Linked DNA regions of Homo sapiens. The protein of the gene in region 1 interacts with the protein of each later gene in a biochemical or structural test. Each region holds a gene or a part of one and is shown on either strand. Other genes may lie near its edges.

Region 1 (3,654 bases):
AGACCAGCCTGGCCAAGATGGTGAAACCCTGTCTGTACTAAAAATACAAAAAATTAGAAGGGCGCGGTGGCAGGCGCCTGTAATCCCAGCTACTTGGGAGGCTGAGGCAGGAGAATCACTTGAACTCGGAGGGCGGAGGTTGCAGTGAGCCGAGATCACGCCACTGCACTCCAGCCTGGGTGGACAGAATGAGACTCTGTCTCAAAAAAAAAAAAAAAAAAAGAAAGAAAGAAACAAGTCTTATAGATGTAGATCCCCAAGGACTTCATTCATGTACAAAAATGTTGTTGTGTATTCTTGTTTCAAAAAGAAAAAAATGAGACGTTCTTTGCGGAAAGTCCCTGGAGTTTCCTGGTTCAACAGTGCTTGGACGGAACCAGGCACTCGTACCCCACTCCGGCTGGCCGCCCATAGCTAGCCCTCTGTTACCTCTTCACTGGGCCCTCTGACTGTCCCAAGGCCCCCGCCGCCACTCCAGCGCCGTGCAGCCACCGCCGCACAGCCACCGTGGCCACCACCATGACGACTGCGCGTCCCCCTCGCAGGTGCGCCAGAACTACCGCCATCAACCGCCAGATCAACGTGGAGCTCTATGCCTCCTACATCTACCTGTCCATGTCTTACTACTTTGACCACAATGATGTGGCTTTGAAGAACTTTGCCAAATACTTTCTTCACCAATCTCATGAGGAGAGGGAACATGCCAAGAAACTGATGAAGCTGCAGAACCAATGAGGTGGCTGAATCTTCTTCCTTCGGGACTTCAAGAAACCAGACCATGATGACTGGGAGAGCAGGCTGAATGCGATGGAGCATGCATTACATTTGGAAAAACTTGGGAATCAGTCACTACTGGAACTGCACAAACTGGCCACCGACAAAATTACCCCCATTTGTGTGACTTCACTGAAACACATTACCTGAATGAGCAGGGGAAATCCATCAAGAATTGGGTGACCATGTGACCAACTTGCGCAAGATGAGGGCACCCGAATCTGGCTTGGCAGAATATTTCTCTGACAAGCACACCCCGGGGAGACAGTGATAATGAAAGCTAAGCCTTAGGCTAATTTCCCCATAGCCATGGGGTGACTTCCCTGGTCACCAAGGCAGTGCATGCATGTTGGGGTCTCCTTTACCTTTTCTATAAGTTGTACCAAAACATCCACTTAAGCTGATTTGTACCATTCCTTCAAATAAAGAAATTTGGTACCCCCCGCCCCCACCAAAAAAAAAAAAAAAACAAAGAAAAAACTTCTTGTTATGGACTAGGTAAGGTACAAAAATGTTTACAGATAATTAAGGTTAAAAATTTTAAAGCAGAGAGCAGTAAGAGACTTTCAAAATGATTAGGGAGAAAATTAGAATGACACAAAAATTAGCATGGCCCCTAATTTAAAAAATACATAATAATAATAAAAATGATTAGGCAGGCAGGACGCAGTGGCTCCCACCTGTAATCCCAGCACTTTGGAAGGCCGAGGCGGGTGGATCACTTGCGTCCAGGAGTTCGAGACCAGCCTGGGTAACATAGTGAGACCCACCCGCCGCCCTCTCTAAAAATAATAATAAAAATAAAATTAAAAACTAAAAATTTAGGTGACTCCACACCCATTAGGATGGCTACTATCAAAAAACTGAAAATAACAAGTATTGGCAAAGATGTGGAAAAATCAGAACCCTTGTACACTGCTGGTGGGAATGTAAAATGGTATAGTTAGTGCGGAAAACAGTACAGTGGTTCCATAAAAAATTTAAAAATAGAATCGCCATATGATCCAGCAATCCCATTTCTGGATATCCCAAACAAATGAAAGCAGGGTCTCAAATAGATACTTGAGCATCCATGTTCATTGCAGCATTATTCGCAATACCCTAAAAGTGGAAGCACTGGGACTAAGACCCCCCCCCCCCCCGCTCCCTGCCATACACAGGGCTCAAGTGAGGGGCTGCTTGCTTAGAGTGGGACTCAGTTTTTCTAGACTTCCTAGCCTAGCACAGACATGCATCAAGAGAGAGCCTCAGACAACCACCCTTCCTACTCCAAAACATTTACAAGCTTGCCACTGCTATCTGCCTTGAGTTCACCAGGACTAATCTCATCATGTCCTTTATCCCTTATTAAGAGTCATTATAATAAGCCATAACGGCCGGGTGTGGTGGCTTATGTCTGTAATTCTAGCACTTTGGGAGGCTGAGGTGGGTGGATCACTTGAGGTCAGGGATTCAAGACCAGCCTGGCCAACATGGTGAAATCCCATCTCTACTAAAAATACAAAAATTAGCTGGATGTGGTGGCACGTGCCTACAGTCCCAGCTACTTGGGAGGCTGGGGCAGAAGAATCACTTGAACGCCAGAAGTGGAGGTTGCAGTGAGCCAAGATTGCACCACTGCACTCCAGCCTGGGTGACGGAGTGAGACTCTGTTTCAAAAAAAAAGAGAAAGAAAGAAAGAAAAAGTATTGTTTTTAAAAATTCAGTTCCCAATTCCTCTCCTCTGTCTTCCCTTGAACCCCTCCAATCAGGTCTCACCCTTATTACTCCACTAAAATTGCTGGTCAAGATCACCAGTGACCTCCATGTTGCTAAATCCAGTGGCCAATTCTCAGTCTTCATTTCACTTAACTATCAGCAGCATCTAACAGAGTTAATCACTCTATCCTCAACACACTTCCTTCTAATGGCTTCAAGTTACCAGATTCTCTTGCTTCTCTTTCTTTCCAGTCTTCTTTGCTGATGTCACTGCAATTTCTTCACACTGGATCGCCCCTGGATTCAGTCCTTTGTTGGTTGTTCTTCTATCTACAGTCATTTCCTTAGTAATTTTCATCTAATCCTAATACTTTACATACACCTATATGCAGGTGAGTCTCAAATGTTTATCTCTCCGTTATTTAGAAAGAGGGTCACTGCAGATGTAATAAATTAAGGTCATACTGAAGTAATATAGGTCATTAATCCCACGTGACTGGTGACCTTGGAAGAGAAGAGATAGAGAGATTCATGGGAGAAGGCCATGTGATGATGGACAGAGAGTCTATATCATAGTGATTACCTCTGGCAAGTGAGGTGGAGGTTTTTTGGTTGAGGAGGTGGTGCAATTTTGGGGACGAGAGAAGTAAACCATACTCTCATTTTATATTTTACATACCTCTGTATTATTACAATGAGCATGTAATCAATACATTTGTTTCGAAAATGGTGGTTCAGTTGGGTACGGTGGTTCATATCTGTAATCCCAGCACTTTGGGAGGCTGAGGCAGGTGGATCACTTGAGGTCAGGAGTTTGAGACCAGCCTGGCCAACATGGTGAAACCCCGTCTCTACTAAAAATACAAAAATTAGCCGGGCATGGTGGCACGTGCCTGTAATCCTAGCTACTGGGGAGGTTGAGGCACGAGAATCGCTTGAACCCAGGAGGCAAAGATTGCAGTGAGCCAAGATCACACTACTGCACTCTAGCCTGGGCAACAGAGCAACACTTCACCAAACAAACAACAACAACAACCAAAAAAAAACACAAAATGGTGGTTCAGAGGTTGAGAAAAGAATAAAGTAATCATTTGGTATCCTCAGGAGATTGGTTCCAGGATCCCCAGTGGATAAAAAAGATTATCTCAGGGCCAGGTGCAGTGACTCATGCCTGTAATCCCA
Region 2 (3,654 bases), on another chromosome or scaffold:
GGAGAATTGCTTGGTGTAGGGGAAAAGACATCCACACATCTGCTCACAGAAATATTGAGTAAAAGTATAGAGAATAAAACAGTTTATTTTCCCTCACAGATGGCAAATAAGCACATGTGAAGATGCTCAAAATCATTATTAACTAGGGGAATGCAAGTTGAAACTGCAATGAAATACTACTATATATCTATTAGAATGGCTAAAAAAATTTTCAAACTGACCACACCAAGTGTTGGCAAGGATACAAAGGAAGTGGAACTCTCATATATTGCTGGAGTCAATGTAAAATGGTACAACCACTTTGGAAAAGAGCTTGGCAGTTTCTTTAATAGTGAAACATCTATCTCTCTTATGATCTAGTTGTTCTACTCCTAGGTAGTTAACCTCTCAAGGAGAAAGGAAAGCATATGTCCATTCAAAAACTTGTACACAAATGTTCATAGTGGCTTGATTTATAGTAGTCAAAGACTGCAAACAAATCCAAATGTCCATCAACAGGTGAATGGATAAATTAACTGTGATACAGCCATGCAATGGACTACTACTCAGCATAAAAAGGAATTATTGATATAGTATTAATTAGTAATTATGCTAAGTGAAAGAAGCCAGACATGCCCTTGTCCCTAAAAAAGGGAGTACACAGGCCGGGTGCGGTGGCTCACGCCTGTAATCCCAGAACTTTGGGAGGCCGAGGCGGGTGGATCACGAGGTCAGGAGATCGAGACCATCCTGGCTAACACGGTGAAACCCCATCTCTACTAAAAATACAAAAATAATTAGCCGGGGAGGCTGAGGCAGGAGAATGGCGTGAACCCAGGAGGCGGAGCTTGCAGTGAGCAGAGATTGCGCCACTGCACTCCAGCCTGGGCAACAAGGCGAGACTCCATCTCAAAAAAAAACAAAAGGGAGTATACAGTGTGTGTTTCTGGTATAGAAAGCAAATCAATGGCTTCTCTGGGGAGGGAGTAAAGAAGGGTAGAGGCATGGAGAAGCGCAGGAAGGATAGATTTCTAAACACATAGGAAACCTTTGCGAGTCATGGATATGTTCATTATCTTGATTGTGGTAATGGTTCCACAGGTGAATATATGTCAAAACTTATCAAGCTGGACACATTAAGTATGTGCAATTTATTGTATGTAATTATACTTCAATAAAGCTGTTAAACTTTTTTAATAACAAGGCAATCTCAGGGACTTCTGCTTCTGGAAAGATGAAATAGATACACTTTTTTATATTCCTCTCACTAAGCACAACTAAATATCCTGGACATTATTCATAGAACAGACATAAGAAATAACTGAAAGATGAAGGGAACCAGTCAGACCAGCTAGGGACTTTGGGACCTGAGAAACAACAGGGTGGGTGGTGAGCTCCCTGGGTATTATTTTATCTATCTACCTATCTATCTAGCTATCTAACTATCTAGCTAGCTAGCTATTTATTGAGACAAAGTATCACTCTGTAGCCTGGGCTGGAGTGCAATGGCGCAATCCTGGCTCACTGCAGCCTCAAACTCCTGTGCTTGAGCAATCCTCCCACCTCAGCCTCCCAAGTAGCTGGGACTACAGGCACGCACCAACACACCTGGATAATTTTTTAAATTTTTATAGAGACAAGGTCTCACTATGTTGCTTAGGCTAGTTTCGAACTCCTGGGCTCAAGCAATCCTCCTCCTTTGGCCTCCCAAAGTGCTGGGATTACAGGCATGAGCCTGTGTCCAGCCCGATCTTGGGTCTCCTTTATGCCTCATATATCCTGGACTGGATTCTGGAAAAGCTGATAACCCAGAAACACCAACAAATGAAGACCAAAAAAGACCTCAAGAAAATCCTGCTCTCTCTAGCCAGAGAACCAGGAAAGGACCAGCCTAGCAAGACAAGCAGGCATCCCAATAGCTTTGCTGGGTTGGTGTCAGAGAAGGCCAAGGGAAGAGCTGGTGCCTTGTGGTATCAGTAGAGGCCCTCCTCCTCCCAAGTAGGATAATACCAGTAGAGGCCTAGTGGGGAGCCTGAACTCCCACCTCCACTCAGCAACAACAAGGTGTTCTTCCCCTGTTAAAGAGGATGTCAACAGAAGCCAAGTAGAGAAGATGGATTTCCACATCCATCTGACAGTAATAAGGGGAGCCTCGCCTCCCCTACTAGCATAGCTTGAAAGGAGACCTGCTAATATAGAAGATTTAAATAATATCTAGCGTCTCATAACATAACAGCCAAAATGTCCAAGATTCAGTCAAAGCCACTCATCTTATGAAGAACCAGGAAAATCTCAAATGAGGAAAGACACAGACACCAACAAGAAAATAACAAAAATGTTAGAATTATCTGACAAGGATCTTAAAGCAGCCATCATTAAAAGTGTTTCAACGAGCAATTATGAACACATAAAACACATTCAGCAAAGAAATAGAAAATATGAAGAACCAAATAGAAATTTGAAAACTGAAAAAAATTGTAACAAAAAATAAAAAAGCTCTCAATGGATTGGCTTAACAGCAGAAGGCAGAGGACAGAATAAAGAAGCAATGAACTTGAAGAGAGAACTATAGAAATCACCCAAGCTGAGCAACAGAGAGAAGAATTTTAAAAATAAATGAACACAGCCTCAGGGACTTATGGGACTATAACAAAAGATCTAACATTTGTGTTGTTGAAGTCCGAGAAGGAGAGGGGAAAGAGGGTTGAACTGAAGAAGTATTCAAAGAAATAATGGCTGAAAAATTCCCAAATTTGGCAAAAAAAAAAAAAAAAAAACCCCATAAACCCACAGGTTGAAGAAGCTGAGTAAACTCAAACAGAATAAACCCAAAAAATCTATGGCAAAACACATCAAAATCACGTTTCTGAAACTAAAAACAAAGAAAAAACTTGAAAACAATGAGAGAGAAATGACACCTTACTTATAAGGGAAAAAAGCATTTAAATGACAGCAGATTTCTCATCACTAACCATCAGAAAGAAGTGGCAAAACCTTTTTCAACTGCTAAAATAAAAGGACTATCAACTCAGAATTTTATATCCAGCAAAAATATCCTCCAGGAATGATGGCAAAATCAAGACATTCTCCACTGAAGGAAAACTAAGAAGTTGTTACCATCAGATTTACTCTAAAAGAATGGCTAAAGAAAGTACTACATCAGAAAGTAAATGCTAAAAGAAGGAATCTTGGAACTTCAGTAAGTAAGAAAAACAACGAAGGAGTAAAAATATGAGTAAATACAATAAACGCTTCTCTTACGTTTTCTAAATTATGTTTGATGGTTGAAGTAAAAATTATAACACTGGTATGGTTTTCAATGTATGTAAAGGAAATGCTTAAGACAACTATATTATAAAGGGAGGAGGGTAAAAGGATTTAAATAATGAGTGTTGGGTGGTAATAGAATAGTTTTGTATCTTGATTGTAGAAGTGGTTACACAAATCTAGACATGTGATAAAATGGCATAAAGCTACATATACACATTTTACCAATGTCAGTTTTTTGGTTTTGATATTGTAAGATGTATTAATCTTGGAGGAAATTGGATGAAGAAGATAGGGGATCTCTATTATATTTGCAACTGCAAATTGCAAATACAGTCACAATTGCAATTATTAATTATTTCAAGATAAAAGTTGATTTAATAAAGAAGAAATTATATGAATCCCCTC

The links. The genes of interacting proteins can lie anywhere in the genome.
Region 2: the proteins of SNIP1 (region 1) and DPF3 form a complex in vitro, tested with the Homo sapiens proteins (one study listed by BioGRID).

The regions. Positions count from the first base shown.
Region 1 is NC_000001.11:37,544,244-37,547,897, forward strand, and holds part of SNIP1 (smad nuclear-interacting protein 1), read right to left. Parts: intron 1,216-3,654; exon of another isoform or gene 320-1,215; intron 1-319. UniProt on the Homo sapiens protein: Required for pre-mRNA splicing as component of the spliceosome. As a component of the minor spliceosome, involved in the splicing of U12-type introns in pre-mRNAs. Down-regulates NF-kappa-B signaling by competing with RELA for CREBBP/EP300 binding.
Region 2 is NC_000014.9:72,765,024-72,768,677, forward strand, and holds part of DPF3 (zinc finger protein DPF3), read right to left. Parts: intron 1-3,654. UniProt on the Homo sapiens protein: Belongs to the neuron-specific chromatin remodeling complex (nBAF complex).